4 separate regions of the Homo sapiens genome follow, and regions 1, 2 and 3 are each linked to region 4. Evidence: fine-mapped expression QTL. A gene starts in region 4. Each other region holds a variant in brackets. All regions are shown on one strand. Distances are between the middles of the regions.

Region 1 (8,107 bases), 140 kb before region 4:
CAGAGATATAGATCAATGGAACAGAACAGAGCCCTCAGAAATAATGCCACATATCTACAACCATCTGATCTTTGACAAACCTGACAAAAGCAAGAAACGGGGAAAGGATTTCTTATTTAATAAATGGTGCTGGGAAAACTGGCTAGCCATAGGTAGAAAGCTGAAACTGGATCCCTTCCTTACACCTTATACAAAAATTAATTCAAGATGGATTAAAGACTTAAATGTTAGACCTAAAACCATAAAAACCCTAGAAGAAAACCTAGGCAATAACATTCAGGACATAGGCATGGGCAAGGACTTCATGTCTAAAACACCAAAAGCAGTGGCAACAAAAGCCAAAATTGACAAAAGGGATCTAATTAAACTAAAGAGCTTCTGCACAGCAAAAGAAACTACCATCAGAGTGAACAGGCAACCTACAGAATGGGAGAAAATTTTCGCAAACTACTCATCTGACAAAGGGCTAATATCCAGAATCTACAATGAACTCAAACAAATCTACAAGAAAAAAACAAACAGCCCCATCAAAAAGTGGGCGAAGGATATGAACAGACACTTCTCAAAAGAAGACATTTATGCAGCCAAAAGACACATGAAAAAATGCTCATCATCACTGGTCATCAGAGAAATGCAGATCAAAACCACAATGAGATACCATCTCACACCAGTTAGAATGGCGATCATTAAAAAGTCAGGAAACAACAGGTGCTGGAGAGGATGTGGAGAAATAGGAACACTTTTACACTGCTGGTGGGACTGTAAACTAGTTCGACCATTGTGGAAGTCAGTGTGGCAATTCCTCAGGGATCTTGAACTAGAAATACCATTTGACCCAGCAATCCCATTACTGGGTATATACCCAAAGGATTATAAATCATGCTGCTATAAAGACACATGCACACATATGTTTACTGCGGCACTGTTCACAATAGCAAAGACTTGGAACCAACCCAAATGTCCAACAATGATAGACTGGATTAAGAAAATGTGGCACATATACACCATGGAATGCTATGCAGCCATAAAAAATGATGAGTTCATGTCCTTTGTAGGAACATGGATGAAGCTGGAAACCATCATTCTCAGCTAACTATCGCAAAGACAAAAAACCAAACACCGCATGTTCTCACTCATAGGTGGGAACTGAACAATAAGAACACATGGACACAGGAAGGGGAACATCACACACCGGGGCCTGTTGTGAGGTGGGAGGAGGGGGGTGGGATAGCATTAGGAGATATACCTAATGTTAAATGACAAGTTGATGGGTGCAGCACACCAACATGGCACATGTATACATATGTAACTAACCTGCACGTTGTGCACATGTACCCTAAAACTTAAAGTATAATAATAATAATAAAAAAGCAGACAAACATGCACCTACATAATCCCTCATAAAACCTCACAAAACCCACTAAGACAATGTTTTAAATTCAGAGGTGTACCTAAAACATCCTCCACAAAGAATAAATTAAAGTGAGTACATGTGTAACCACCACCCAAGAAGAGAAGAGTATTTCCAGCAACTCAAAAGATTATCTGTCCCTTCCAAATTACACTTCTCCGTCTCAAGCAAAAGTAGCCACTACCCTTTTTGGGAAATCACCCCCTTATTTTTCTTTGTAGTTTTTCAACCTCTGTATGCATGCCTAAACAATATGGTTTAGTTTTGCCTCCCCTCTGAACTTTATGTAAATGGAATCATACTGTATGCTTTTGTGTCTCTTTCTCTGAACATTAGGTCAGAAGTTTATCCTGGTGTATGTAACTGTGATTCACTCACTTTCATTTCTTATTAATATTCCCTGGTATGTACCACAATTTATCCACTCTAATGTTGATGGACATTTTGCCTATTACATACAATGCTGCTATGAACATTCTTGTAGGGAAATCTCGCATACGTGCATGCATTTCTCTAGAATATACACACAAAAGAGGAACTGATGGATCACAGGTTAGGCGTATCTTAAATTTTGGCATTAATGCTAAATTGTTTTCCAAAATAGTTGTACCAATTTATACTGTCACTAGCAGTGCATGAGAATTCCCATCACTGGACATCCTTGCCATCACCAGATACATGTGAGAGTAAGTAATTTTGTGCAAATCTGTTAGGTATATAATAGAATCTCCTGATTTCAATCTGTCTTTTTGTGATTATTAATGAGCTATGGCTCCTTTTCAAATATTTACCGGTCATTTAGATTTTCTCTTGTGACGCACCTGTTCAAATATTTCATCCGTTATTGTTATCATTTTCTTATTTGTAGATATTGTTATATTCTGGATACTAGTCCTTTGTCAAATATAGATGTTGCAATTCTTTTCTCCAACTCCACAACTTGCATTTCACTTTTAATGCTATCTTTGAGGAAGTTCCTAATTTTAAAGTAGTCCAATCTATCATTAATCTCCTTTTATGATACAGTACTTCCTTTACTTTTAGTTTTTTATTTTGACATAATTTCAGGCTTACAAAAAGTTGTAAATTTATACAGTTATACAAAGTTATAAAAAGTTCCTGTATACCACATTCCCCAAATGTTAATATTTTACATCTGCTTTACCCTTGTCTCTGTATACATACATATATTTTTTTCTGGACCATTTGAAAGTTGCAGGCATGATTCCTTTTTATTCCTTAATACTTTAATGTTTCCCCTTAAAAATGTCTTATATGACCACAGTACAATTATCAAGATCGGGCAATGGATACTGATAAAATACTATTATCTATAGAGCTTAGATTTCTTGAACTGCTGCAATAGTGTCCTTTATAGTAAAAGAAAATTCCAGATTAAGTGTTTAGCTATGTCTTTTTAGACTCCTTTAATCTGGAATAATTCTTCACTCTTTCTTTGTCTTTCATGGCATTAACACTTTTGAAGAACACAGATCAGTTATTTTATAGAATATCTTAAAATGCAGGTTTCTCTGATGTTTCCTCTCAATTAGATTTAGGTTATGGGTTTGGGGCAGGAATACCACAGAAATGTAGCAATGTTCTTATTGCATTTTATCAGGTGGCACTTCTGTTAATTTGCCCCATCTCTGATGATGTTTACTTTGGACAGCAAATGCAGATAGTATCTTCCAGGTTTCTCCTCTATGTTGTTTTTCCTTTATAATTAATAAGTATACTGTGGGAATATATTTTGAGATTATGTAAATATCCTGTTCCTTACTAAACTTTCATCCATTAGTTTTAGTACTACTATGATGGCTGCCAAATGGCAATTTTCTAATTCCATCGTTGCATCATTTGTCAGTTTCCCTCTGTAAAGAAGAGCGTTCCTTATTTGTGTACTTATTTATATCAGTAAAAATTCATGGATTTTTATCTTATTCAAAGGGTTATAATCCACTATCATTTATTTTCATACCCAGATTGTCCCAGATTTGGCCAGTGGAAGACCTTTAAGCTAGCTCCAGTGTCATTATGACATGCTATGACCATTCTTTGAGCAATTCCTTACTTTCTGGCACAAGAAATTCCAGATTCATCTCATTTTTCATGCTCCAGCCTAAAATCAGCTATTCCTCCAAGAAATAGTGGTTCCTTTTAGTGGACAAAGGTATTTAGAAACCAAGATCTAGATGCCAGTTGTGTTCACTGCTACAGGGGTATCACTGCTTCTAGGCCTCTCAGCTGACAGTTAGGAAAACAAATGTGTGTGTATGTTTATGTATGTATCTATAGACAGACACACACATATCTATTTTCAACTGTCCACTGAAAGGGCTTAGGATCAAAGACACACCAATACAAACATCCGTATCATATCTACATATCTCTATACCTATACATCACTGCTCTATGTCTGTTTAAATATACACAAATATATGCATGTATACATACACACATTATTCATATAAACATGTAATATATTCATATGTGTATAGACACATACACATCTATGAGGTCACACTAATGCCTCTAATGCAATTATATTGACAAGGTTCATTCTGGCCTTCCCACTTTCTCTTTTTTTGAGATGGAGTC[T/G]CGCTTTGTCACCCAGGCTGGAGTGCAGTGGTGCCATCTTGGCTCACTGCAACCTTCACCTCCCACGTTCAAGCGATTCTTCTGCCTCAGCCTCCCAAGTAGCTGGGATTACAGGCACGTGCCAACATGCCCAGCTAATTTTTTGTATTTTTAGTAGAGACAGGGTTTCACTGTGTTAGCCAGGATGGTCTCAATCTCCTGACCTCGTGATCTGCCCGCCTCAGCCTCCCAAAGTGCTGGGATTACAGGTGTGACCCATTGCACCCGGCTGCCTTCCCACTTTCTACACTTGTAACTCTCTTCTTCAATAATGAGAAACCTGGCTCACAATATCCAAAATATTTCTATCTGCAATTGTGGTTTATTTGTGTAGTGAATTCCTATAATTTTAGGTTGCCTTGGCATTCGTTTCAAGTATAAGTCTGACTTTCTCATTCAAGAATCAGGGCTCAGTCACCCTTGACACAGTTTTTAGTTCTCCATTTCCTCCCAGGTCCTCAATGTGGTCAATCAAGATACCTGCCTTTTACAACCACCTCCTGGTTATCACCTCCTTTTAGGAGAGCTAGGTAGAATCTACCTGACTCACCCTAATGACCCCAAACCCTGCACAGATATGCCTCAGTGACCACCTCTTAGTCACAGCATGACTCATGCCTGCTTGCTCCAACCTACAAATTAGAACTCCTCATAGGAAACTTGCTTGGTTAAGAACACCCTGGACCCCAGTAAAGGCTTTAGTTCCCTAGGTCCTTTCTCTTTCATCCCATCCACTGGTTGCACTTGCGTGTCCTAGGTGGCACCCCTCTTCCTGTTGACCTTGCAAGGTGTGCTACTTTCTCTTCTCTCTAAAATCTGAAATTAAAACTGCTTGTTATTTCATGCGTTTTGTTTTACCATCTCCTCTGTAGCTCACCTGACCAACACACCTGAACCTAATTCTCCGCTTGGTCAGGGTTCTCCTAGAGCGTGGCTGTCTTGGTCAAATAAACTGGACACGGATAGGACAAGAACCACAAGGGTATCTGCCAGTATAAGTTTCCTGTGAGAAGAACACCTGGCCATAGGTCTGACATTTAAGCATTAGGACATCTACCAAGATAAAAAACTATCTCATGAAAGACAGACTGTAAACATCCATGACCATCTCATATGGTCATATCCCAGCTCCACAATAATCCCTGGAGCCCCATCAGGACAGACATACAGTTAACAGCCACTCTCCAGAGAGTTTACAGACACTCTCAAGAAAGATCAAATTAGAGGAAAATAAAACAATTTGGCCAGGCATGGTGGCTTATGCCTGTAATCCCAGCACTTTGGGAGACCGAGGCGGGCGGATCACAAGGTCAGGATATTGAGACCACCCTGGCTAACGTGGTGAAACCCCATCTCTACTAAAAATACAAAAAATTAGCCGGGCGTGGTGGCAGGCGCCTGTAGTCCCAGCTACTCGGGAGGCTGAGGCAGGAGAATGGCGTGAACCTGGGAGGCGGAGCTTGCAGTGAGCCGAGATTGCACCACTGCATTCCAGCCTGGGTGACAAAGCAAGACTCCATCTCAAAAAAAAAAAAAAAAATTTGATGTTTTAAGAAATCTTTTGCAACCTCAAGGTTAGCAATACATTTTCCTCTACATGTATTCCTCTGAATTCTCCCTTCTAAAATATGTATTGTTCTGTCTTGCACATCTCTAATCTACTTGGAGTTAATTTTTATGTATGGGGTGAGATAGGGACCAAGTCTTCCTTCTTTCCTATGTAGATAACAAGATGTCCCAGCACCACTGATTGAAAAGATCAACCATCCTGTTACTCTACCATGCCAATTGTGATATAAATCAAACATCAACAAATGTGTGGGTCTCTTTCTGGTGCTGATTTTGGTGTATTTGTCCTCAGACTGCCATCTCACTATCTTAATGACTACAACTTTTATAAGTCTTGAGCTGGTAGAAGTCTTCTTTATTGCTCTTCAATATTGCCTTATCTATTCTTGGCACTATCTAGCTCCATAAAATTTTAGCATCATTCTATCAAATTCCACAAAATTCTCTTAAAATTTTGATTGGGAATGCATCAAAGATACATAAATAAGCTTGGAAATGGTTGATATTTTTACAGTAGTGAATCTTCCAGTCCATGAACATAGTATTTATCTCCTTTAAGTCTCTCAATAAAGTTTATTAATTTTGCTTATAGGAGTTTTACACATATATCATTAGATTTGTTGCTAGGTCCTTTTTGATGGTATGAAAAATGACATCATAGCTCCAGTTCCAAGTAAAATAAAGTAACCACAGTGATGTCTCTCCCACTTGATGCAGCCATAAAACATAAACAGAAAGCACAGAACAGCTATTTGAGGACTCTTAATAAGGTGAATTATAGCAGATAAATGCGGTAAGAAGAATGGAGTTTGAAGTTCACTATTCTAGCAGAGTTTCCCATTTTACTGAACTAAGTTAGGCCTGGACTGTCAGGCCTAAACCAAGCAGCAAAAACAGAGAGCTCCAGGAGAAGCCATTTACTTTTGGCTCAAGGAATGGGAAAGGAGACTCTTAATGTTCACAGAAAGGGAGGAAAAATTCTCCCTTTATCTTTTTTTTCCCTTTTCTCTATTTTCTGATATCACAGCCCCCAAATAATTCCACAGTTCTACTCTGAGGTGCCATGACCCCAAGAGAGTAGAGTGGATCCACGTTGCTCTTTTTCTTTCTCTACAGGTACTTTGGCACTGAATATAGACAGGTACAGTCACAGGAAGTGACTGGTTTTCCAGCCAGAAAACCAGAAAGTACCAGGAAAGTCACAGAAAGAGGAGTCTGGAAAGGCAACTCAACAAACTTGCTTGTAAACTCCCGGGCTCATCCCCAGGCTGTGCAAGCATAATCTTAAGCTTAAACAGCAGAGCAAAGACCTTGAGACCACTGCCCAGGTTCCATACTGGCCACTCAGTGGCACATCACAGGATAGAGTATATTCAGCTAGCACTGCAAAGGCTTTGAAAATGGAACTTACATGGAAACTACAATATACAGAAGGTTGGTCAAACCTTTCCATCTCAACCCAGCCAGCTCTAATTCCTGCTAAAACAAAAATATCAACATTCTCCATAGGATTTACAAAAGGCCCAGAGTCGCATAACGTAATATTTTTAAATGTCCAGGCATAATCCAAAATTACTCATATAAAGAACTAAGAAAATCTCAACTTGCAAGAGAAGAGACAACAAGACACAGATGTTGAAATCAACTGACAAAGATGTTAAAATGGCTAGTAGAAAAATGTTTAAAGAAGTGTGGGCACTCCCCAAATCAATAACATAGGTTTCCATCTTAATCAATTAGAAAAAGAAGAGTAAAACAATTCCAAATCACATAGAAGGCAGGAAACAATAAAAAAGCAGATATCAATGATATTAACAGAAAACCAAGAGTGAATATGAATGAAATCAAAAGAGCAATATAACATAAAAACTTCAGCAAGATAGGCAAAGAGAAAAGACACAAATTACCAATATCAAGAATAAAAGAGGGGTATCAGTACTAACCCTGCACACATTAAAAGTATAATAACGAAATGCCACAAACAACTCTATACGCAAACCTATAAAAATGAAACAGATGAAAAAGACCAATTCCTCTAAAACCAAAAACAGTAAAAACACACCCAAGCTGAAACATATTACTAGGATAGTCCTTTAACTATTAAATAAATTAAACGTATAGTTAAAACCCTTCTGAAAAAGAAAACTCCAGGCCCAGATTGTTTCACTTATAAATTCTACTAACATTTAAAAAAGAAATAACACCTATTCTACATAATCCTGAGAGAAAGTAGAAAAGGACAAAATACGGCCGGGCGCAGTGACTCACGCCTGTAATCCCAGCACTTTGGGAGGCCCAGGCAGGCAGATCACGAGGTCAGGAGATCGACACCATACTAGCTAACATGGCGAAACCCCATCTCTACTAAAAAACAAAAAAAAATTAGCCGGGCGTGGTGGCAGGCACCAGTAGTCCCAGCTAGTCACGAGGCTGAGGCAGGAGAATGGCGCGAACCCGGGAGGCGGAGCTTGCAGTGAGCTGAGATTG
Region 2 (8,107 bases), 270 kb after region 4:
TGGCCTTTAATTTCACCTCACCTCTTCTGAGTAGGTGAAGTCTCTTCTAGACTACCTTTAGTAGCTCCTGTTCCCTATCTCCCTTTTCCTTTTGTTCCTTTCCTCCCCACGACCATCATGAAAATTGGTCTGTGGAGATGTGAGTCTTTACTAAGCGTCTCATACTGGGATGAAGATTATTTTTAGGATTAATCTGAGTCACAGAGGGAGGAGGGAAAGAACCATTTTAATCTTTTCCTTTTCACTCCTTCATAACCTGCTGTACAGCTAAATCATTTTACAAATACGTCTTTCCTCCTTTTCCCTAGGAATGCTTTGCCTTTTATCTTTCCTTTGGAAGCAGTATCCATAAGCCTTCATCAGAAGCTTCTAAAAGTGGAAGGGATTTTTCTTTGTTAGAAAGGACCACGGGCTAATTAAAGGAGATTGCTATAAGCTGCTTTCATGTAAGTAGATCCATTTATTATTATAGCGGTTGTTGGTATCTGAGGGGTTATATAGTTGCCCCTGTTTCCCTTTCTCACTGGCCCTCTCAGCTACACCCATGTCTTAGTCTGTTTTGTGCTTTTTATAACAGAATACCTGAGATTGAATAATTTATAAAGGAAAAAAATTTATTTGGCTCACAGTTGTGGAGGCTGGGAAGTCTAAGAGGGGACAGTATCTAATGAGGTCCTTCTTGCTGCATCATCTCATGGTAGAAGGCAGAAGGGCAAGAGTGATCTCAAGAGGGCAAGAACGATCTCCAGAGGGCAAGACATTGAACTTGAAGCTTCCAGCTTTATTATAATCAGCATGATTCAATTCATGAGAGTGGAGCCCCCATGACCTAAACACCTCCAATTAGGCCCCACCTCCCAACACTGCTGCATTGGGGATTAAGTTGCCAACATACGCTTTTTGGGGAACACGTTCAAACCATAGCAACCCCACTCTGGATTTTCCCTTCTGTCGCTCTGAGGCTGAGCGTGGAAGGGACTCCTGCTTTCTGTGGAGAGATGCAGGCAGAGACTGTGTTTGACCTTCTTCCTTTGCAGCAACATGCTTGAGCATGCCTCATGTTTCACTGTTGGACGACATTTCTTTGAGGGGTAAATAAGCATGTGAACGCTACACTTTAAAAAATATCTTTACCAATTTACACATTAAACACTGAGGAAACAAAGAAGAACAAACAAAACCCCCCAAATAAGTTACCCCAAAAGGTGGGAGAAAGTTCTATCTTGGATAAAATAGGCACTCAAAGGCTATCTGTTGAATGACTTGAATGAATGAAGAGAGATCTGGGCCAGGTGCGGTGGCTCATGCCTGTAATCCCAGCACTTTGGGAGGCTGAGGAGGGCAGATCACCTGAGGTCAGGAGTTCAAGACTATCCTGACCAACATGGCAAAACCCTGTCGCTACTAAAAAAGTACAAAACTTAGCCAGGCATGGTGGCGGGTGCCTGTAATCCCAGCTACTCAGGAGGCTGAGGCAGGAGAATTGCTTGAACTTGGGAGGTGGAGGTTGCAGTGAGCCAAGATCGCACCACTGCACTCCAGCCTGGGCAACAAGAGTGACATTCCATCTCAAAAAAAAAAAAGAGAGAGAGAGATCTGGCTTAACTTAGGTGAATGATAGTTTAAACAGGCAAGCTTCTGGCTGAAGATACTAACAGCACCCCTTATTTAGAGTAGGTTAGCATTTTAGGGGTGCTTCCACACACATTATCTCATGTATTCCTTGGACAGACCCCACCCTTCGAGGGAGGGGAGGTAGGTGCTATTTATACCATTTTAAAGTTGAGATTAAATGACTTGCCTGGAATCAAACAACTAAGTGGCAGAACTGGGGCTTACACCTAGGTCTGCTGACTACCGTTGGTGCCAAGACATCAGAGAGATTCTTCTGGTTTCACAGTGGAGCCCCCAAGGATTACTGCTGGGGGACTTGTCTTACTTAAAACTGTGATAGACTGTGTGGAAGCAGGCCCATGTAGGAAATGGCCTTAAGCTCTCCAGAGTAGTAACTACCAAGCAGATGGATCTAAATTGAAAAGATAAGCTTCACACAGCTTATGTGAGTGGACAAAAATATGGCAAATGAGTTTCATTCTGTACTGAATTGGAATAATGCATTTAGTATTGTTAGTCTAAAGTCACTTAAAAGAAGATGAGTTGGGAGCTGTGCTTTATTCTAAGAAAGAGACCCATGAGTTATTGTTGACTGTTTCCTAAAGTCATATAACAATATGCTAGGCCTGTTTGCTAAGAACGTGGAAAACAGAACTGAAAGCATTATTTTGTCTTACATTTGACAAAATGGTAATGAAGTTATACCTGGAATCATGCATTTAATTCTCCCTGGAAACCGTAAAAAAGAGTCTAGTATTTAATAGATATACCAGGTCATAGAAAGAGGTAACTAAAATGACCAAATAGATTTCCTAAGAAGAAAGTTGCTTTAAAAGTAGAATTAAATAAGGGGAAATTTGAAGGAAACCCCTATTCACCTTTCGTTTTCAACTAACATTTTTTTGAGAAACCACTACATTCAGACACTGTGCTCAACACTAGAGTTTACAATGACTAAAACACAGAAGTTCACAATCATTGTGTGAGAATATCAGCCGGGATGAATCATGAGTACAACTCAGCACAGCTATTCTTGTGTGCTTAGTGGATTGGCAGCTGGTCTAGGGTACAATCTCTTGAACTTGGTTGGTATGTGTTGGTTGCCAGGGGCCAATCAACCCTGGTAAACCTGCAATCAAGTTCTTCAAGCAGCAAATCTGAAGAACTGGACCCTTCATATCTACCAGAGCATAAAGTGAAATTATGACTTATTAATAGCGTCATTAACATTTAGTTGTTTACCTGGGTCTAACAAATACCATCCTTCTCTGTGGTCTCAGCACTTCTAAGCTAGGAAGGTACAGACAGTCCCTGCTTGTGACTGAGTTATGTTCCCAAAAGTTGATTTCTAACTTGGTTGTTTGAAACTGAAAATGTATTTTCCCCAGAGAATCAATGTTAGAAATACTGGTTCTGTTCTCAGGCCAACTCTTAGAAGGCCATTTAGCCCATATGCAGCTTGACTTTGAGACTATAGAACTGTGACCTACGACATTGTTTCTATGGGAAAATGTGCCCCAGAAGGAACAAGGTCTTCCTTCCTACCCCACTTCCTACCTCCCTGTGTAATGAAGCCTGTGTGTTTATTATAGGAAGTGCTGCTCCCAAGTGTGGGCGGCTGGGCTTTGAGGCAGCCTTGGACACTTACCCCCAAGGGCAGAGATATTCTCACTTCTCCTGTCCCAGCTCTGGCAGGGAGGGGAGTGGGAGCAGGTGGGGAGTCTGTCCCTGACCCACCTTCTTCAGGGCTATCTTCTGGGGGGTGGGGTTCTAGCAAGACTGGCTACATAATTTCTGGGGCCCTTTGGTTCAAAAGGCAGAAAAATAAAAATGCTGCTAAGCTAGTTAAGAAGACAACTTTTTTTCCTCCTGCTCTCTCTCTCTTGACTTGTTACAGTGTTTTAAATATGTGATTTAATGTTATTCTACGTAAGAAAAAAGAAAAATTTAAATTACTAGCATGAATGTTATAATTCATTTTTATACTGTGCAAAGCCAGTTTTAAATACAAATATAAGATCATTTAATTCCTGAGGCAGGAGGATTTGCTTGAGCCCAGGAGGCCAAGGCTGTAGTGAGCTGTGTTTGCACCAATGTACTCCAGCCTGGGCAATAGAGCTAGAGCTCTATCTCAAAAAAAAAAAAAAAATTAATTCCTTTGTGGACTCACCAAAATGACATAATTTCTATTTTTTAGCTCTTACATATATATATAGTTGGTTATTACCAGAATAGTATAAAAACTACACAAAACTACCTCAACTGATATTTCACCTCTTTTTTTTTTTTTTTTTGAGACGGAGTTCCACTCCGTCACCCAGGCTGGAGTGCAATGGTGTGATCTTGGCTCACTGCAACCTCCACCTCCCAGGTTTAAGTGATTCTCCTGCCTCAGCCTCCAAAGTAGCTGGGATTACAGGCACCTGCCACCACGCCCGGCTAATTTTTGTATTTTCAGTAGAGACGGGGTTTCACCATTTTGGGCAAGCTGGTCTCAAACTCCTGACCTCAGGTGATCCACCCGCCTCAGCCTCCCAAAGTGCTGGGATTACAGACGTGAGCCACTGTGCCCAGCCCTTATTTCACTTCCTGATGCACACACATTGTA[C/T]TAACACTCCACCTTTGACTTACTGAGGAGTAAGAAAGTACTGAAAGGCAAAGGAAATGTCCTCAGCACAAGCAGTCAGCTAACACAGGGAAGTGACACAAGAAAGAAAAGATATGATAGGGTACCGTGGTCTTTTATGTCTTAGAATGCCATTGCCTTCTTTCGGTTTGAAGTTCTGGTTCCAGTGGAAAACATGACTTCTCAGAACTATCAGGACCCCCACTTACTCAGCCGTAGACAAAACAGGCTTACCTTGTATTAATACTTATTTGCTTTGTCTTGCTGAATTCTGATGCACCGCGGGCTCACCAGAATCCTGTGCACATGGGTCATGGAGAACACTATACATGAACAGGGTGGCAGGAAATAGTGAACATACTTATTGCATCTATCTCCTCTGCTCACCTGCGTGCTCCACTGCCACATCTGACTTCACTACACAACACGAGTTCAAAGATAAAATCATCAGGAATGTCAAGATGGTCATAGCAGAGCATTAAACCAAGCATGGGGTCCTTTTGCACGCAGGGCCCTGTGTAATGCCCTGGTTGTGGGAGGGAATGGGATGGGCACTCATAGGTTTAGAGTGAGGCCAGGATGGGCAGATGAATCTTAGGCCTCTTGAGCCCCTGGCCATTTTTCTTCCAGGACACCAGACCTAGGGGATTGCCAGAGGCAATGATGAATGCAGATAAAGACTCCAGAGGTGGTTATCAGTTTCTGGGGATGATGACATCTTCTGGGAAGGGAGTTCCAGTGGTAGTAATTATCAAGTGGTAAATGGGAGGTGAGAGGCAGGATTGTGGAAGGCAGACCTACTAAGCCTACCATATGATATACTAATTGATAAATGGAGCACTCAGAATGACCAGTGAAAGCAAATGTTGGGTACAGGATTAGTTAGAGGAAGTGATTACCTTCTTCCTCAAAGGACAGGATAGCTTGACTACTGAAGTGCAAAGGGGAGGAGCATGACCTTGTGAGTTGAAAGCTGCTTTGTCTCCACAACTCAAAATATTTATCATTCCCTGCACATGGGCTGACAAACATCCGGTCTATTCTTTCCTTTTATTTACTCTGGTCATGTGGCAGAGACCCAGGTTGTTCTCAAAATCTGAGACTAGTTATAGAAGGCTTTGTGGTCTCAAGAGGTTCAAGTTGGACACTGTCTCCAGAAATTAGGAGTATCTGTTCTCTTCAAGGTATTGGGCCTCTCAAGATAGAAGGAAGGACAGAATGCAAATAAGAAAACCTTTGGACTAAATTTCCCTGAAGCCAGAAAGTGTCACTCTCTCTATGCTTCTCTTAAAATGTGTGTGTTGGGAGAGGCTGTAAGTTTTGTATTACTAGTTTAATTCTACCATTTCTACAAATTTGCCTTGCTTCCAGAAAATTCTGACTTCCAAAGCAGAAAAATTAGAGGGGCTCTTTGGATTATTTATTTGGTTTTATAAAATTATTCCAATAGATATTTCCCAGTACTTTTAAATGTTTAATTATATAACCATTATTTAAAAAGTAAATGTATAGTTTTTGTCTCAGAAATTGATTTTATTACAAGGAAAGCCAGGTTTTGTCTAAAATATTTAAGCAATTTTTTTTTTCTTTTTTTGAGACAGAGTCTTGCTCTGTCGCCCAGGCTAGAGTGCAGTGGTGCTATCTTGGCTCACTGCAACCACTGCCTCCTGGGTTCAAGTGATTCTCCTGCTTTAGCCTCCTGAGTAGCTGGAATTACAGGTGCCCGCCACCATGCCCGGCTACTTTTTATATTTTTAGTAGAGACACAGTTTCACCATCTTGGCCAGGCTGGTCTCAAACTCCTGACCTTGTGATCCACCTGCCTCAGCCTCCCAAAGTGCTGGGATTACAGGCGTGAGTCACCGTGCCTGGCCTTAAGTAATTTCTTACAGCTTTTCAATGAAATCCCATTTGTCATAGTCTGAGAAAATGATAGAACGTTTGTAAAGTGTTTACCTGAAACGGGCTACTTGGTAGGAACTTGATAAATGATTGCTATTACCATTCTCCTGAAGGATAAGTTGTTTTTTTGTTTTTTTGAGACAGAGTTTTGTTTTTGTTGCCCAGGCTGGAATGCAATGGCATGATCTTGGCTCACTGCAACCTCTGCCTCCTGGGTTCAAGCGATTCTCCTGCCTCAGCCTCTCGAGTAGCTGAGATTACAGGTGCCACCACACCCAGCTAATTTTTGTATTTTTAGTAGAGACAGGGTTTCTCCATGTTGGTCAGGCTGGTCTTGAACGCCTGACCTCAGCTGATCCACCCAACTCGGCCTTCCAAAGTGCTGGGATTACAGGCATGAGCCATTGCACCCAGCCTTTTTTTTTTTTTTTTTTTTTTGAGACAGAGTTTCACTCTGTTGCCCAGGCTGGAGTGTAGTGGCACGATCTTGGCTCACTACAACCTCCATCTCTTGGGTTCAAGCGATTCTCCTGCCTCAGCCTCCTGAGTAGCTGGGACTACAGGCACACATCACCAGGCCAGGCTAATTTTTGTATTTTTAGTAGAGATGGGATTTTACCATGTTGGCTAGGCTGGTCTCAAACTCCTGACCTCAAGTGATCCACTCACCTTGGCCTCCCAAAGTGCTGGGATTATGGGCGTGAGCCACCGCGCCTGGCGGAGGGGATACTCTTGTTGCCCCATCCAATTAAATGTGGGATCCTAGTTTTGTTTGCAGGTGGTAGTCTTGCATTTCCAAAAATCATTCGTGTGATCTGCCTCTCATCAAACTTTATGTACAGGTTTGATGGGTTTTGACTGAAAACATTCTCTCCATAATCTTTAACTATAGTCAGTCCTCATTATTCACAGATTCTGTTTGCAAATTTGCCTATTGCTGAAACTTATTTGTAACCTCGAAGTAGTCATAGCACCTTTGTAGTCACTTTTGAACATGCACAGTAACGAGATACTTGAGTCACCCTACGGGAACGTTGCCAGCTGAGGCCAAACAAGACAAGATTCTGCCTTCTTGTTTCAACTCTCGTACTGTAAACGAGTGTCCTTTCCATGGTCTATTTGGTGCCATGATTTTTTTGTTTTTAGAAACAGGATCTCTCTATGTTGACCAGGCTGGACTCAAACTCCTGGGCTCAAGTGACCCTCCTGTCTCAGCCTCCTGAGTAGCTGGGACTATAGGCACATGCCACTGTGCCGAGCCATCACATGTTTTGCTTTCCGTTGGTGATTTTGCTGTTTAAAGTGGCCCCCAAATCTATTGCTGAAGTGCTGTATAGAGTTCCTAAGCACAGAAGGCTGTGAAGTGCCCTACAGAGAAAATACATGTTAGATAAGCTTTATTCAGGCATGAGTTACAGTGCTTTTGGCAGCGAGTTCAGTGCTAATGAATCAACAATAAGTATTTAAAAAGGTGTCTTGAAACAGAAATACACATAAAACAAGATTATATATTCACTGGCTGATGAGAATGTTGTGCCAGAGGTTTGCAGGAACCTAGCCTTGTATTTCCCCTAGGAGCAGGGTTCAGTTTTCACTAATTTACTGTTCATGATCACTTTACAGAACATAAGTACCACAAATAATGAGAATCCACTGTGAGAATGAACTGTACTTGGCAATGAATTTCTTCAGTGGAAGGCTGTTTTGTTTATTTACAAATCAAATTACAACGTGTTCTTCTATAAACCGTGTCTAGGAGAGCAGTCATTTTAAATTAAGAGTATAAACAGACACACAGAAGCTTCAAGTTGGAGACCATGGAAGTTATCAGCTGGCTGTAGGCCCCTCCTCTCCTCTGCAGTTCCTTTTAGACCCTCCTTGACAGGTGGCCATTGTTTTCTGATTGAATGCTTCCAGTGATGTAGCATTCACTTCACCAGGGAAGTCCTGTCCACTGTGGCTCAG
Region 3 (8,107 bases), 120 kb after region 4:
GAACTTTGGTGTATTACCCAGAAGTTCTTGCCTCATGGCAAAATTCTATAATCTGAATCTGAAGGAAATTCATTTTTCATTGCTTTGGAAAGGAAAACCTAGCTAAAGAAGTAAACTTTTTTAAAAATGAAAAATACTTAGAAACGTTTTCCCCTAGGATATACCATGATAAACTTGATAAGACTTGAAAAAAAAATGGAAGAGATTTGTTACATATAACCAACAAAGAATATATTAAGGGCATTTTTTTTTTTTAACGGGCAAAAGATTCTTCACACAATAAGGAACACATTTGCCAATGAACATATGAAAAGATGCTCAAGCTCATCATAATTCAGCAAAATGCAAATTAAAACCACAGTGAAATACCACCAGAATGGCCAAAAATAAATACTCTGATAATACCAACAATGAGCAAGGATGAGGAGCAATGTGAATTGTCATGTGCCGAATCTGCTGGGAATGTTAATTCAAGCAATCACTTTGAAAATAGTTTGGGATTACCTAATCAAGTTCAGTATAAGCATACCCTTTTCCCAGCAATTCCATTCCTAGATTTGAAGGTCAGAGAAACTCTCTCACGCATGTGTACCAGGAAATAGGTAACAAGATTGTTTATAGCAGAGAAATAGAGGGGAGAGACTATAAGCAACTTAAATGTTCATTTATACGATAGAATAGTATATAGAAATGAAAAGAAAGTAGTATAGCTCTAAGCATCAACTCAAAACAATGAACAACATTAAATGAAAAAAGCAAGTCACAGAAGGGTGCATACTCTGCGAGTCTGTTTACGTAACATGCAAGAAAAGGGGCAGATCTAAAACTGTTGAGGGTATGTACAAATAAGGCAAAACTGAAGGAAAGCAAGAGAATGATTAATTCAAAATCTGGTAGAGTGGCTACTTTTGGAAGAGGAGATGCAACTAGAGAAGTGAATATGAGGGTATTAGTAATGTTTTCTCTTTTATGCTGGGCAGGGTGTTCATGGTTTTTCATTTTATTCTTTAAGCAATACTGTAAACAAGCTTTGTGTAGTAGATTTTACTTTGGGATTAGGAGAAGCAATGTATTGGAGTAAGCTATTTAGTCTCTCTGTGGAATGTAGAATGTCATGTTCCAACTTTACAGAACCTGGGTGGCATATAGCATTGCCTGCCTTTGCCCCTAATATCTCATTCCTATCGTATTGCCTATTAGAGTGCCCTGTTAGAATGATCATTGAATTTATGACCCATACTAGGACATTCTTGAAAGTAAAGTAAGGGATGCATAAAATAATTAAACTTATATCTATGTATATTTTAAAATATTCATTGAGAAAATTGGCTTATGTACTGAAAATTTCAAAAATGTATTAAAGCACATTAAAAACTTTTAAAACAGTAATTATCCAAACATTAAAAAAAAAGCATGAATTAAATTATTCTTGGTACATATTTATATACTTTTATCAGTTTCTTACCCTTATCTGTCTGAAATATCACATCATTGATATTTTTATAAAGGGAAAATTTTTTTAAGTGGTGTTATTTTTAATTTTTGTCCCTTAAATTTTTACCTTCTTCAGAATTACATTTTATGGCTAATATATTGGAAAGTGATGATATCTTCCATTGAATCTTATCTGAAGACTGTATTATTTTTAATGGAGAAAATATACTGTAAATATACTTGTAAGCTTGCTTATTTATTTATTTATTTTTAGAGACAGGATCTCACCTTGTTGCCCAGGCTGGAGTGCAGTGACACGACCGTAGCTCACTGCAGCCTCAAACTTCTGGGCTCAAGCGATCCTTCTACCTCACCCTCCCAAGTAGCTAGGACTACAGGTGTGTGCTGCCATGCCCAGCTATTTTTTTAAAGTTTGTATAGAGATGAGGTCTCACTGTGTTGCCCAGGCTAGTTTCAAACTCCTGGGCTCAAGTGATCCTCCTACCTCAGCCTCCCAAAGTGTTGGGATTACAGGCATGAGCCACTGTGCCTGGCCAAACTTGCTATCTTAAAGTTGGAGGTACAAAATGGACGCTTAACAAACAGTAATGACAATGATAATAATTTGCTAAAAAAAAAAAAAAAATTCAAGATAACCAGTAAACCAGAAGAGGTGCCAATAAAACAGGTATACACCAGACCTGTTTTGGGCAGTTACACAAGTTGCCTGCAATGTAGTATCTGCATAAGCAAATTCTGTTCATTTGCTTGTGTTTTTTTTCCCCTGTGATTACAGGATGTTTTTACTTTTTTCAACACACAATTCTATTTCCTCTATATTTTCCAGAACAAATGCATACCATGTATCTTTTACAATGAGAATAAACCAACAAAACTGTACTTTCTCCTTCATTTTAACTGGCTCCTAGCTAGATTAGAGATACTCATACTTGAACTGGGATAATAAGTAAAACCCAGTCGTATGCTTTCCATGTATTCTGGAAAACATTTAGGACTTATGGTAGGTCTGGCCTCAGCATCTCAACATTAAATCAGCAGTTCTCTTTCCTGGAATTAGAGATTCGTGCATCAAGCTGAGCATGGTGTCCTGCGCCTATAATCCCAGCTACTCGGGAGTCTGAGGCAGGAAGGTCACTTGAATCCAGGAGTTCAAGACCAGCCAGGACAAGACCCTGTCTCAATCATAAAATCTTTTTTTAAATTTTTTAAAAAATTAACAAGTTAATATAAAATTAAAGTGTGTCTTGAAATCAGACAGCCATCTTGTCTGCCATCGATGAACAAATTACAAAAATGGACTCATAATACATATTTGCCCACAGGGCTTGCAATACTGTTTCACAAAGATGGCTGTATTCTTCCTCTTCACAAACGGCCAGTCTGATACATAGCATGTTTAGCTACAGATGCCTCTGCTGACTCTCCCTGCAACATTTTCATTGCTCGCCAGTAGATCTGTCTGCAGTTTTCAGGTCTACCAAGGGGGTGGTTCAATGGTTCCTTGATACAATCCACCCAAAGATCAGAATCTACAGATCCAAACTCTCTCAAAGCCCTCTCATAATATTCTCTTAATGTTCACCATCTTGCAGGATTCTTGCTGTTTTCAAACTGAATCATTTTCCTGAAAAAGTCAACTGAAAATGGATGGCTGTTCTGTAAACTTTTATACACAGCTCTGGCTTTTTTGTAGCCACCATGTTGATAAGCCCAATCCAGGTACTTATCCTTCAGGGTTACTGAGTTGGCACCTGTGACAGCTAAGAGAGCTTTCTTAAAGATTGCCTCGGTGTCTTCTTGGCTTTTGGCACCTTCACTCCACTCTGCCAAGAAGTCCACAATGGTAGACAAACCTGGAGTTTCAGGTGCACAGAGTCTTCCTCAAAAAGCATGGCTATGTCAGGGCTCTTTGAGTCAATCAGCACATGCACCTTCATCTGCCACATTGTCCCAGAGTCTCTATAAACAGTTCAGTCCCAGCTACTGCCACCTCTAGAGCTTTCCTCAGGAAGTTATGGCACAGCAACAACTCAAGTCAACTGCTTGTATTGGAATTCTGGCAGAAGCTTGAGTTCATGTGCCCTTCTGAATGCAGTCATGGTTCTTTCCAACCTCTTCCCTCTGAGGAACCCACTATTTGTCTTCTTAGTAAATCTTTCCAAGCAAAAGGTGATATAACACTTCCACATGGCCTCCCTTGGCAGAGTCTTCACTGCCTCTTCATATACGGCACAGCATCTGTCCTCCTTCTG[G/A]CCCTCCTCTGCTTTGTCTTATTTCGTTGTAGGCTGTACGCTGCTCTTCTCCCGTTTGTGACTCGATCTCTAATTGTCACCTTGCCGCATAATCCCAAGTGAGAAGATCATCTGTGTGTAGAGCCTGAGGGTCATCATAAATTTCTATTTGTAGACCTTTGGCAAAGTCAAATCGCTGTGCAGTTGAAAGCAGTGACACATGAAATTCTGCACCTTAAATTATGCTTACAGAATTTTCATAGATGATCCGTGCCAATTTGCCCTTAAGGATTTCTTCAGAATAATCAGGATTCTCCACATCCATGTTGGCTTTTTGAAATTCTTGCTTTTCCTTCCTCAGTTTTTCAGCATGCATCAGCTCCATCCTAAAGTAGTCTTGATAAAGTTTTGGGCCCTCTGGATGAAAGTGCAGTGCCCAAAGAAATAGTTGCCTTGCACTTTCTGAAGACAAGCAGTCTTCCATTTCCCATTTGGCTGCCATAATCCACAAAGCTGGCTTGTTGGAATGAATGGCCAACATGGCAGAGAATACCTTGCTAAGTTGAGTTTTAGTAGCCCATTTCTTACAAAAAACTACATAGGAGGCCAGGCACGGTGGCTCATGCCTGTAGTCCCAGCACTTTGGGAGGCCGAGGCGGGTGGATCACCTGAGGTCAGGAGTTGGAGACCAGCCTGACCAACAAGGTGAAACCCCGTCTCTACTAAAAATACAAAAATTAGCCGGGCCTGGTGGCAGGCGCCTGTGGTCCCAGCCACTCAGGAGGCTGAGACAGGAGAATTGCTTGAACCCAGGAGGCAGAGGTTGCAGTGAGCCGAGGTCATGCCACTGCACTCCAGCCTAGGCGACAGAGCAAGACTCCATCTCAAAAAACAAACAAAAACCTACATAGGAGAGCCAAAGTTGAACATCGTCTTTCCTCTTTGCTGAGGCACTTCGGAAAACACCTTGTACCTGGTGTACAATAGAATTCTCAATCTCATCCTTCTTAAATGAATATCCAATGCGTGTTCTTCTCTGGATCTGTTCGAAAAGATTAATTTCATGTTGAACATAATTGATAAAGTCGTCCTTGAAAAGGGCTCTTTCCTGGATTCTGTACTGTAGATCAGAAGCCTTCTTAATGATAGCGTTAATCTCTGCATGACTGAACAGTCCAATGTGCTCTAGCTGTTCCAATTCAGGGAGCTGATCTTCTTTGTGTTCCTGAATTATCTCTGCCATGAGGTCCGAACTCTACAACCCCATGGGAGCTTCTCAACCGCGAACACGTGCAGGAAGCTCCCCCATTTGCTTGTTGTTGGACCCAAGGTGGTTGCTAGTCAAATTGCTGTCAGACTCCAGTGGTGAGCCTGCCTTTCTAAACAGTTTGAACATTTCCATTCATGGGAGATGGAAACACATCAAAGGAGCCTTAAAATGTTACTGGTTTGCAGAAAAAACATACTAAAATATTAAGCTGAGAAAACTTGAGGGAAGGGGTAGTAAAGGAAATGTATCAAACTGAAGTACTGAGCATTTTGCAGTCAAGAAAAACGTAACCAAATCACTAAGTCTAAAGTGTATTTATTTCCATAGGTACTAGGTACTTTTTTTTTTTTTTTTTTGAGACAAGGTCTTGCTATGTCACCCAGGCTAGAGTGTAAAGGCACGATCTTGGCTCACTGCAACCTCTGCCTCCTGGGCTGAAGCCATCCTCCCATCTCAGCCTCCTGAGTAGCTGGGACCGCAGGTGTATACCACCACACCTGGCTGATGTTTTGTATTTTTCACCATGTTGCCCAGGCTGCTCTTAAACTCCTGAGCTCAAGCGATTCACCTGCCTCGGACTCCCAACGTTCTGGGATTACAGATGTGAGTCACTGCGTCTGGCCCAGTACTAGGTATATTTTATGAGACAGACAGTTCATACATATGGCTGGAATATGCAGAAATCCTTGGTTTCGCCTTTCCTATAGAACAGTCCTGCCGAATCAGCAGATGATTAGCTCTTTGATATATGCCAACTTCTGTGTCTCTAGAGCTACTATTAACCTGCTTGTTGATTAACCTCATGGCTGCCTGGGAGAGACCGCACAGGAAGGAAATGATGATGGTCCCTTCCCACAGTCAGACCCTCCCACCAACCTTGTCAGTCAGTGGATGACATATCCCAGCATGATTTTGAGTATTTTACTCAATCATCTTCAGAATGCTGTATTTTTTTCCTTTAAAAACACCTCAGAAAAATATTTTCAAATGCATCTTTTCAAAAGAATATTTTTCCTAGTGGCAAGAGACCACTCCTGTCATGTGGAATGTATTGCTATCCCCCCATATTAATACTGAGTCATATTGTTCTCCTAAACAATATATAGTAAAACAAATGTGCCTTAAACATATTGTGCTGAAGCAAAGTACTCTGGTAAAATAATTTGAAAGCTATTGATGGAAAATCTTTTATTTTGACACATAATTTCTTTCCCCCTAAAATTTAATTATTAGAAATTCTAAATTCTATCAAGTGGCTGCCTTAATGGATTTGAATTTTGTTTTATCTTTTCCCTCTTTTTTCCTGGTTGATTTTTTTTTTCTCAACACAAGGCAAAAGGCATTGAATGATTCATAAACAAGAATAGTATGTGATATGTGATCAAAGAATATATGACACATGGAAATTACATTTCACTTAACCTGAGAATTAGATCTAAGTAGGTGGAGATGACTTACTATTTAAAATGTATTTGTTTCTTCTCTCCATAGCTTTAAGAAAAAGTAGAGATCACTTCTGACTGTACTGAACAGCAAAAATTAAGTGACTTGCTGCCCTGCACATCATGGCACTGCCATTCCGTAAGGACTTAGAAAAGTACAAAGACCTTGATGAAGATGAGCTCCTTGGGAATCTGTCAGAAACAGAACTGAAACAACTGGAAACTGTTTTGGATGATCTTGACCCCGAGGTAGGTGCTAGGTGATGAAGAGAAATGAAATAACTTTTCGAATTCTTTGAAACTCAGTAGCTGCCTTTGAGCTTTTCCATGACTTTTCTCTGGCACCTTCCACCCTTTCCTCCACTTTATCCAAATCAAGTTGCTTTTGGCTCTCTCTCCAGTTCCCCACTTCTGCCTCCATATGTTTAATGACATGACTGTCCTAAACTACTTCAGTATCCTTGTTTTCAAACATCTCCTGAAATTTTTTCCTCCTCTAAGAAATTTTTCTCCTCTGTGCAGGAAGGGATATTTTTAGTACAATGCAGCAGATGGTTACCTTTTTGATACACGCCAACCTCTGTCTCTTCAGAGCTTCTATGCCAGGTGGCTCCAGTGTAGAATGCCTCTAAAAGATTCTTCATGACCCTAAATCTAATTGTTCCCTTTCTGAAAGAGGCTGACCGAATTGATTACATTTCCAGACATTGGTAGAATAGATCTAAGTAACTTCTTGGCAATACAGCAGTCCACTGTGGAGCAGACATGAATATATGTATGTAAGCTTTAACTTGCAAGGTGGATGTTGTTTGTCTTATAAATTACACAAGGCTAAGATAGACACCCATGACCCTTGAATTGTTATTCCCTGATATGTTGGAGGACGGGCAGTGAAGGAAGAGCCTGAAGGTCGTGAAGGTAATGGTTGTTTGCTAGGCTTCTTTTCTTTACCACATTTCTTTATGCCAAGACGTTGATTTTAAGTATCCTCTAAGGACTGAGATGGAGTTCATTTTATAACGTTGTTGTTACTGGATGATGTATCTATACCATAGATCAAATCCCTTAACCATAATTACTATTATAAGGAAAAGTTCCCAGTACATCTGATTGGAGGGGGATTACTCAGGATAATGATGCTGTTTTTATCACATCACAACAGTATCTTCTGTAGGCAGTTCAATCTATTAGACCTATTTGAATCAAATGTTTTAGAACTGGAAAAAGTGGCTGGGTGCTCACGCCTATAATCGCAGCACTTTGGGAGGCCGAGGCGGGTGGATCACTTGAGGCCAGGAGTTCGAGACCAGCCTGGCCAACATAGTGAACCCCGTCTCTACTAAATATACAAAAATTAGCTGGGCATGGTGGTGCACGCATGTAGCCCCAGGCTACTTGGGAAGTGGAGGTATGAGAATTGCTTGAGCCAGAGAGGTGGAAGTTGCAGTGAGCCGAAATTGCACCACTGTACTCCAGCTTGGGTGACAGAGCAAGACTTATCTCAAAAAAAAAAAAAAAAAAACTGGAAAAAGCATAAGACTTTATCTAGTCCCTAGGCCAGGTTCCTCAATCTTGACAGTATTTACTTTTGAGGTTGGATAATTTGTTGTAGGGGGGCCGTTCTGTGCCTTGGAGGGATGTTTAACAACATCCCTGACCAGTAGCACACTCCTCCTGTTTTAAAATGTTCCTAGGATGTTGTTTTAATC
Region 4 (8,107 bases):
AACAAACAAACAAAACAGAGACTCCTAGACTCCTTTTCTGGGTATTCCAATCCCATAGATCCAATGTCAGCTAGGATCCTTTATTTTTAGTTTGCCCCAGAGTATTCCTGTCCTGCCCAGGCCAATTTGAGGAACATGGATCTATTCTCACATCCTGAGATATGCCCTGCTGCCAGCCCTTCAGCACCACTTCAGAAAATGGCTCCCAGCTTGTTACCCTTGTAATCCAGGGCTGGCAACCAGGTCTCCATCTTCACCCCCTTGTCGGAGTCTCTGTTCTGGGAACTTCCTTGTACCTAGACTACGACTGGCTCTTAATCAGTCTTCCACCAAAGGACTGAAGTCCTGCCTGACACCCAGCTGGGTGGCTGAGGAGTTGCCATGGAGAGACAGGCTTTCCTGAGAGTTTCTGCTCATCTGTGCAAGATTGACAGACATGGTATGTTAAGGTCAACTGTTTGCTGAACTGACTTAATTTCTAGGTGCACTGCCTTGAGTCTCTAAGCCTCCAATATCTCATTTTCGACCTTTTAAAACAATCATTTAAATATGTTGTAGATGGTCTTGCCAGTCAACAACAGAAACCTAATTTGCTCAACTTCTTTCTGTTCAGTCAGAAGAAAAATATTTTTCTGCCTTTTTAGCTTCCACCTTAAAATCTCACAATGAGTAAACCTAATTAATATCTGCAGATATTAGACCAGTGCAGTGGCTCACACCTGTAGGCCCAGCACTTTGGGAGGCTGAGGTGGGTGGATTGCTTGAGCCCAGGAGTTCCAGACCAGCCTGGGCAACATAATGAGACCCCATTTCTACAAAAAATACAAAAATTAGCTGGGCATGTGGCTTGAGCCTGTAGTCCCAACTCCTCAGGAGGCCGAGGTGGGAAGATCACTTGAGCAGCGGCAGCTGAGGCTGCAGTGAGCCATGTTAGTGCCACTGCACTCCAGCCTGGGTAACAGAGTGAGACCCTGTCTCAAAAAAAAAAAAAATCTGAAGATATTAAAACAAGAATATCACTTCACTGTTATGGTAAGTATTATCACTTTCACTGATTCTATATTACCAGTGGAGGAGTCTCTAAAAATTTTATCAACTATAAGCCAGGGCCCAAAGTAATGAGAAATACATGTAATAAACCAGTGGTCCTCAACCAGGGGTAAATTTGCCTTCTAGAGAACATCCGGCAATGCCTGAATAGGGGTGGGAGAGTGCTACTGGCATCTAGTGGGTAGAGGCCAGAGATGCTGCTAAATATTCTACACTGCACAGGACAACCCCGTGCAACAAAGAGTTATCTGGTCTATAACATCAACAGTGCTGAGGTTGGGAAACCCTGTAATGAACTATGTGTCACTATCAATTATAGTTCCTGATTCATTATCCTTGTGTTTAATATCTTAAAATCAAAAGTCTTTATAAAAGCAACGAAAAATCTGATCTACACTTTAATTTTAAAAAGGGGTAATGAGGTTATGAGTAATAGGATCTATATTAGACATAACAGGGATTAGAAAGCATTTGATCAAAGGTGGAAAACTGCAGTAAACAGATGTATAAGAGTTATCTATAATCAACTCAAGTGAAACCACAGACGGCTGTGGGTCACAGAGAGATTGCACGGGAAGACAGCATGGGAAATAACACTCTTCTGCATGTCATAGATTTTTAGGTGCTGTCACTAGCCTAGTAAGGCAAGATGCCTGAAAACCAGATAGAAAAGACTGTCCTCCTTCAGTAGCCAGGATGCTGAGAGAGCTCCTGATAAGACTAAGATAAAAATAAGGATGGATATCAAAAGTAATATCTAGAGGAAAGCAAATGCTTTATCACTGTTAATTCAAGCTGGTCTCAATGAATGATCATACTTGGAAAATATCCTTACCTCTCATCCATCTTCTCATCTGTAAAAAGATTAATTACACCTACCTCCTGGGCTTATTGTGAAAGTTAAATAAGATAAAGATGAAACAAGACAAACGCAATGCCTGCCACACAGGAGGCATTCAGCAGAGGGTAGCTACTGGTATTTCCCAACTTCGCTTTCCTCTGCCTCTGACTCAAACCAGGCCCCATTAAGGCACATAGAGAATTGTAGCTCTATGTTCACATGTATAGAACTCCCAAGAGGGCAGAATGGGGCTCTCCATGGCATGATAGAGTCAATACATGACTGCACAGCAAGGTCCCTTTCAAAATATTTCAAAGATAGAAGGACCTGATAGGTAAACATATACCGGCTTAAATATGCAAAATACATTCTCCTTCATACTGATGCTCCTTCATTCGGTAAAGGGCCAGAAAGAGTTTCACTTTAAGGGAAAGATATAGATAAGATCCTCTTTCTTCCCATTGCTGTCTAAGGTGCTTCAGGAAAGAACACTGAAAACTGATACAGATCCCAAATGTAAAAAGGCCATCACATAGCTCACAGTTAATTATAAGTAATTTTAATGAAACAATTTGTTCCCTCAGGTTTCCATGTTCTTCCCAGAGGTGTAATGCTATACACCCAAGACACACACACTTATAAATTTGTAATAAACGCAGCCCTCCAGCTCACCACAGTTCTTGGCTGCTGCTTAGCGACAGGTGTCACATTCGCGGTTGCCAGTGAGCCCAGAGGGTGTAATTTCACTTCTACATAAAGAAGCATAATCGATAGAACCAGAACCACCCAGTAGGAACAACTGCACCATTCCTGACTCATCACGGAGCTTGTTTTCACAGACAACAAAATTCACCTCAGTTGGGCTTTGCGTAAATATAGAGTAGTGTGATGGGGCCTGCAAATTGGGTGAAGGTGGTTCACGGGGATGCCAAAGCCCTAGTCCTCTTCGGCCTCCCTCACGCGACAGATCTAGTCTGAGCCTGGGCGGGGCACCGGGAACTCGATGCAGCTACCTAGGGAGGGAGCCCTGGCGGTCCGCCCCTCCCGCTGCAGGACCAGCTTTGGCGACCACTGCGGTGGCCAGCAGCGCGCGCTGAGCGAGCCCTGGGAGCCGAGCCGCCCGGGGACGCACGGCCGTCCCTGCGACTCCCCATCCCCCAAACCCCCACCCGCAGTCCCACCCCCACCCCCACCGCACCCCGAGCCGCACCGCCTCCTGCGCGGTAGCTGCCAGCCCGGGCCGCGGCGGCGCGCCCTGCTCACCGTGACACCGTACTTGAGCGCGATGCCCTGCAGCGTGTCGCCCGCGCGGACCCGGTGCTCCACATGGCGCTCGATGACGCCGGCGCCCAGCGGCGCCCGCACGCTGGCGGTGCTGCCGTACGAGCGGGTCTTGGTGCGGGCCAGGCTCAGCGACAGCTCGGCCTCCTCGGACTCGGAGCCGGAGCGCGAGCGCGGCGGCGGCGAGGGGGCCGAGGGCCGCGGCGCGCGGGGGCCGCCTTCCCGCAGGGACAGTGCGGGCGAGGAATCCGCCATGGGTCCTGCCGAGGCCGCCGGGTCGGGGAGCTTGCCAAGGGGGCGGCGCCTCCTCCTCCTCCGCCGCCGCCGCCGCCTCTTCCTCTTCACAGGGGCTGCAGCAGGCCGTTCCGCGGGGGCGGCGGACGGGAAGCCGAGGCGGGGAGCCGCAGGCCGGGCATGGCGGGCGCCTCCTCCTCTGCGTCCTGCCTGCCCCGGGCGCCCGCGGCACACGCACCTGCAAGGTTAAGAGCGAAAGCAGCTCCCGCCGCGGCCTGCCGGTACCGGGAAGACCCTGCAGAGCGAGGGAGCCGGGGAGCGCTGAAGCCCGCGGCCGTTGGGGCTAAGAGAGGGCTATCTGCAGGCGTCCTAGGCCCCAGGTGGACCCCTGCTCCATTGGCGATAGAGCCCTGGCAGAACCCTGCCCTGGCCACGGCGAAAAAAAAAAAAAGCGTTGCTCTGCCTCCTTTATTGATTCCCCAGCAGGAGCCAGCTTGCACAGACCTTCCAGCTCTGCCAATGCCAAGGGTACTTCCCTCCCCCCACCCCAGTGACCTCAAAGTCCACGTCACAGTAAAACTTAAGATCATCAAACACACACAGACAGCTTCTCCAGGTCCATCTCAACAGCCTCAGAGTCCAGTCCTTTCAACATTGCACTAGGAGGGATAGTGCTTCTAAGGCCTAATGGGTGGCCTCAAAATAACCCCCCTAGTTGTTCGGGTTTCACACTTTGTACACTAGTGCCAATTTAAGTCCTGGCTGCCTCGAAAGGCTGGCCACATACAATTCATTCTCCAGGCTCAGTAGTTGGAATTTACTGTCTGCATTCATCTTCTCTTCGTCAGTTTATTCTTTGACACCCTGAAATCGCATCTCCCTGCCCCGTATTGCTATTAATATTATAACCACCAAAGACCTCTTATCTGTACTCTTCATTTGAACACCGTCTACTCTTGAACACCCTTTCAACACACTGTATTATACACAGAGTGGGTACACATTTACTAGCATCTAGTGCCTGGTTTCTGTGTTATTTTGGACAGCTTTCCAAGAAGAGGTACCTTGTAGGAAGGTCCGGAGCCTGGGGGTTTGATTCGTTGGCTGAAGTTTTGGTATGTTGCTGTGCTGGACAGAGGCAAAGCTAATATTGCTCAGGAGAGAAAGGATGGGAGAGGAGCAAGCTTCCACAACACCATCCCACTCAAAACTCCTACAATGGCTCTCTGGGGACAACAGCATTACTAAAAACCTACATTGGCATTCAAGCTATTATTTCTATTTTTATTATTCATGGTCTGACCATACCCCATCTATAACTCATTCTGTATACTCTACATATTCCTGCCAAACAGAGCCTCTGAAACTGGCCTCCTTGTTCCTACTTTCATACCTTGCATGTTATTCCCTCCAATGGTAACACTCTTCCAGTACCCTCTATTACATTGTTTAAATCTTTAAGGTCTGTCTCAAATGATACATCCTCCATGAGATTTTTCCTAATTCTTCCCAATGGTCCCTTTTTCCCACCTGCCCAACTGTTACTGTTTCTTCTTTGAACTCCAAGAGGTTTGTATTAATACCTCTGGTTTAGTATTTAACTCTCTGTGTTTTGTGTTTGTACTTGCATGTACATGCATGAGCTTGTCTTATCTCCTCCAACAAATACGTGCTCCTGGGAGGCATAACTGGGTCTTACTCATCTTTTTAGCTCCAGCAGTGCCTAGCTCAGTGGAATAAAAAAAAAAATAAATACATAATTACAAGTGGTTGAATTGAGGTGTAGTAAAAAGATCCTGAATGCTAATTTAGATTGTTTAGCATAAGTCTGCCATGCATAAACTTTTGGGTGGTATCCAGTGTGTCCATTTCAGGACCCAAGAGAGAGGCAGAATTTGAGTCTCAGTATATAGACAAGATCTGGTAATGTTTCAAGAAAGAAGTCTCTTCCTTCAAAGAGTTTACAATCTAGGAATGAGACAGCATATAATGTTTTCCACTAAGAAAAAGTTTACTGCATGGCTGGAAGTTTTAATCTGAAGATTAAAGAACTGAGCCAGGCGCAGTGGCCCATTCCAGCACTTTGGGAGTCTAAGGAAGGAGGATAGCTTGAGCCCAGGAGTTCAAGACCAGCCTGGGCAACATAGTGAGACCCATCTCTACAAAAAATACAAAACTTAATCGAGCATGTGGCCTACTCCTGTAGTTCCAGCTACTTGGGAAAGTGAGGTGGGAGGATTGCTTAAGCCCAGTAGGTGATCTCTGCAGTAAGCAGAGATCATGCCACTGCACTCCAGCCTCAGCAACACAGTGAGACCCTGGGGTTTTTTGTTTTGGTTTGGCTTTGGGGTTTTCTTTGTTTGTTTGTTTGTTTTGAGATAGAGTCTTGCTCTGTTGCCTAGGTTGGAGTGCAGTGGTGTGATCTCCGTTCACTGCAAGCTCCGCCTCCCAGGTTCAAGCAGTTTTCCTGCCTCAGCCTCCTGAGTAGCTGGGACTACAGCATGTGCCACTATGCCCGCCTAATTTTTTGTATTTTTAGTAGAGGTGGGGTTTCATCATGTTGGCCAGGCTTCTCTCAAACTTCTGACCTCAAGTGATCCATCAGCCTCAGCCTTCCAAAGTGCTGGGATTACAGGCCTGAGCCACCACGCCTGGCCAGGCCTGTTTTTTTGTTTTTTTGTTTTTAAAAAAAAGAACTGAGTTACATGAGGTGTTATTAGATGTTCATTGTTTTCCTTCTTAAACCAGAACTTCAAAATTGTTTTAATATGTATCTACCTACAACATAGAAGTTCATCACAATTAAAGATGAAACATTAAAAGCATTTCCTTTGAAGGGAATGGTAAGAAAAGGAAGCCTATTACTGCCTCTATTTAACATTGTTTTGAAGGTCTTTGCCAAGGCAATTTTAAAAAGAAGAAAAGGAAATGAAGATTGAAAAGAAATCAGCTGTTATTTACAGATAGTAGGCAATACTAAAATGTTTATAGGCAACACATAATGAATACATTGGAACTGTTCAAACAATTGAGAGTTCACCAAAGTTAAAAGATACAAGCTCAATATACAAACATCAATTGCATCACTCAATCATATAAGTGTGAAAAAGATGACATTCCACATACCACCAAAAATACCTAGGAATAAATTTAACAAGAGAAAATTGTTCCTGGTGGCGTAGGAGCAGAAAAAAAAATTTAAGGTAATAAATAAAAAGATAAAAAATAAAAGAAAGAAAGAAAAGTGTGTATTGTATGGAAAATATAAAACTTTTTTGAAGTACATAAAAGAAATATAAATAAAAGCAGAGATATACCATGTTTGTGAATGGGAAATGCAAAATAATGAAAATATCATTTTCTTTACAAACTAATGTTAAATTCATTAAAATTGCAAACAAAATCTCTATAGCATTCTTCAAAGGATATGACAGAGTTATGCTGACATTCATATGAAAGATAAAGCACTAACAAGGGCCAAGGCATTCCTGAGGAAGAATTAGGAAGGAGGCTTACCCTTATAGCCATGAAGACTTAAAACTATGAGAACTAAAGCAATGTGGGACTGGTACTGAGGCAGGAAAACATAACAAAGGGACAAGGAAGTAAGCCAGCAAACAGGTTCACATATATTGGATAACTTAATCTATAGCAGACGTAAAGTTACATATTCAATAAATGTTGCTGGAACAGTTAGTTTTCTGTGTGAGAAAAGATGAAATTAGATCCCTGTCTTATACTACACATCAAAATCAATTATAGATTGATTAAAGACATAATTGGGAAAAGCAAACATTAATGCTTTTGCAACAATATTTTTATAACCTTGGGATAGCAAAGGGTTTTTTAAACAAGATACCAAAATCATATAATTCACACATCACATAATTCATCCATTTAAAGTGTATAATTCAATGCTTTTCTGCATATTTATATTACATTACTAATTTCTTGAATTGTGACAAATGTACATAACATAAAATTCACCATTTTAACTATTTTTAAGCTTACAATTCAGTAACATTAAATATATTCACAGCCCGGGTGGTGGTTCTCGCCTGTTATTCCAGCACTTTGGAAGGCCAACGCAGGTGGATCGCTTAAGGCCAGGAGTTTAAGACCAGCCTGGCCAACATGGCGAAACCCCATTTCTACTAAAACTACAAAAATTAGCCTGGTGTGGTGGCAGGTGCCTGTAATCCCAGCCACTTGGGAGGCTGAGGCAGAAGAATCGCTTGAACCTGGGAGGCGGAGGTTACAGTGACCCGAGATAGCAACACTGCACTCCAGCCTGGGCAACAGAAGGAGACTCTATCTCACAAAAATAATAATTAAATATATATATAATGTATATATAAATAATATATATATATTCACAATGTTATGCAACTATCACCACTATCTATTTCCGAAAGTTTGTCATCACTCCAAAAAGAAATTTTTTTTTTTTTGAGACGGAGTCTCGCTCTGTCGCCCTGGCTGGAGTGCAATGGCACAATCTCCACTCACTGCAACCTCCACTTCCTGGGTTCAATCGATTTTCATGCCTCAGCCTCCCAAGTAGCTGCACCAAGATTACAGGCCTGCACCGCCATGCCCAGCTGATTTTTGTATTTTTAGTAGAGATGGGGTTTCGCCATGTTGGCCAGGCTGGTCTTGAACTCCTGACGTCAGGTGATCTACCCACCTCGGCCTCCCAAA

The links.
Region 1: its variant is fine-mapped to the expression of LYSMD2 in whole blood (INTERVAL, PIP above 0.99).
Region 2: its variant is fine-mapped to the expression of LYSMD2 in whole blood (INTERVAL, PIP above 0.99).
Region 3: its variant is fine-mapped to the expression of LYSMD2 in nasal epithelium (TOPMed, PIP 0.98).

What each region holds. Positions count from the first base shown.
Region 1 is chr15:51,595,717-51,603,823 of GRCh38, forward strand. All of the region lies in intron 1 of DMXL2 (Dmx like 2), which reads right to left. Among named protein-coding and RNA genes, the nearest start is that of DMXL2, 23 kb to the right of the region's middle. RefSeq lists an enhancer at 7,836-8,107. The variant T/G (reference allele first, on the strand shown) is at 4,013.
Region 2 is chr15:52,003,957-52,012,063 of GRCh38, forward strand. It overlaps MAPK6-DT (MAPK6 divergent transcript), which reads right to left. Exons shown (of 2, transcript NR_156732.1): 2 at 7,043-7,510. It also overlaps a transcript of MAPK6 not described here. Among named protein-coding and RNA genes, the nearest start is that of MAPK6-DT, 11 kb to the right of the region's middle. RefSeq lists enhancers at 2,738-2,867, 4,480-4,619 and silencers at 7,076-7,370, 7,836-8,107. The variant C/T (reference allele first, on the strand shown) is at 4,223.
Region 3 is chr15:51,856,364-51,864,470 of GRCh38, forward strand. It overlaps TMOD3 (tropomodulin 3), which reads left to right. Exons shown (of 10, transcript NM_014547.5): 2 at 6,448-6,647. The coding sequence starts at 6,522. It also overlaps the pseudogene LOC100422490. Among named protein-coding and RNA genes, the nearest start is that of TMOD3, 31 kb to the left of the region's middle. The variant G/A (reference allele first, on the strand shown) is at 3,708.
Region 4 is chr15:51,734,196-51,742,302 of GRCh38, forward strand. It overlaps LYSMD2 (LysM domain containing 2), which reads right to left and starts at 3,460. Exons shown (of 3, transcript NM_153374.3): 1 at 3,155-3,460. The coding sequence starts at 3,427. RefSeq lists enhancers at 236-295, 306-365 and silencers at 1,166-1,235, 2,909-3,118, 3,189-3,328, 3,339-3,778.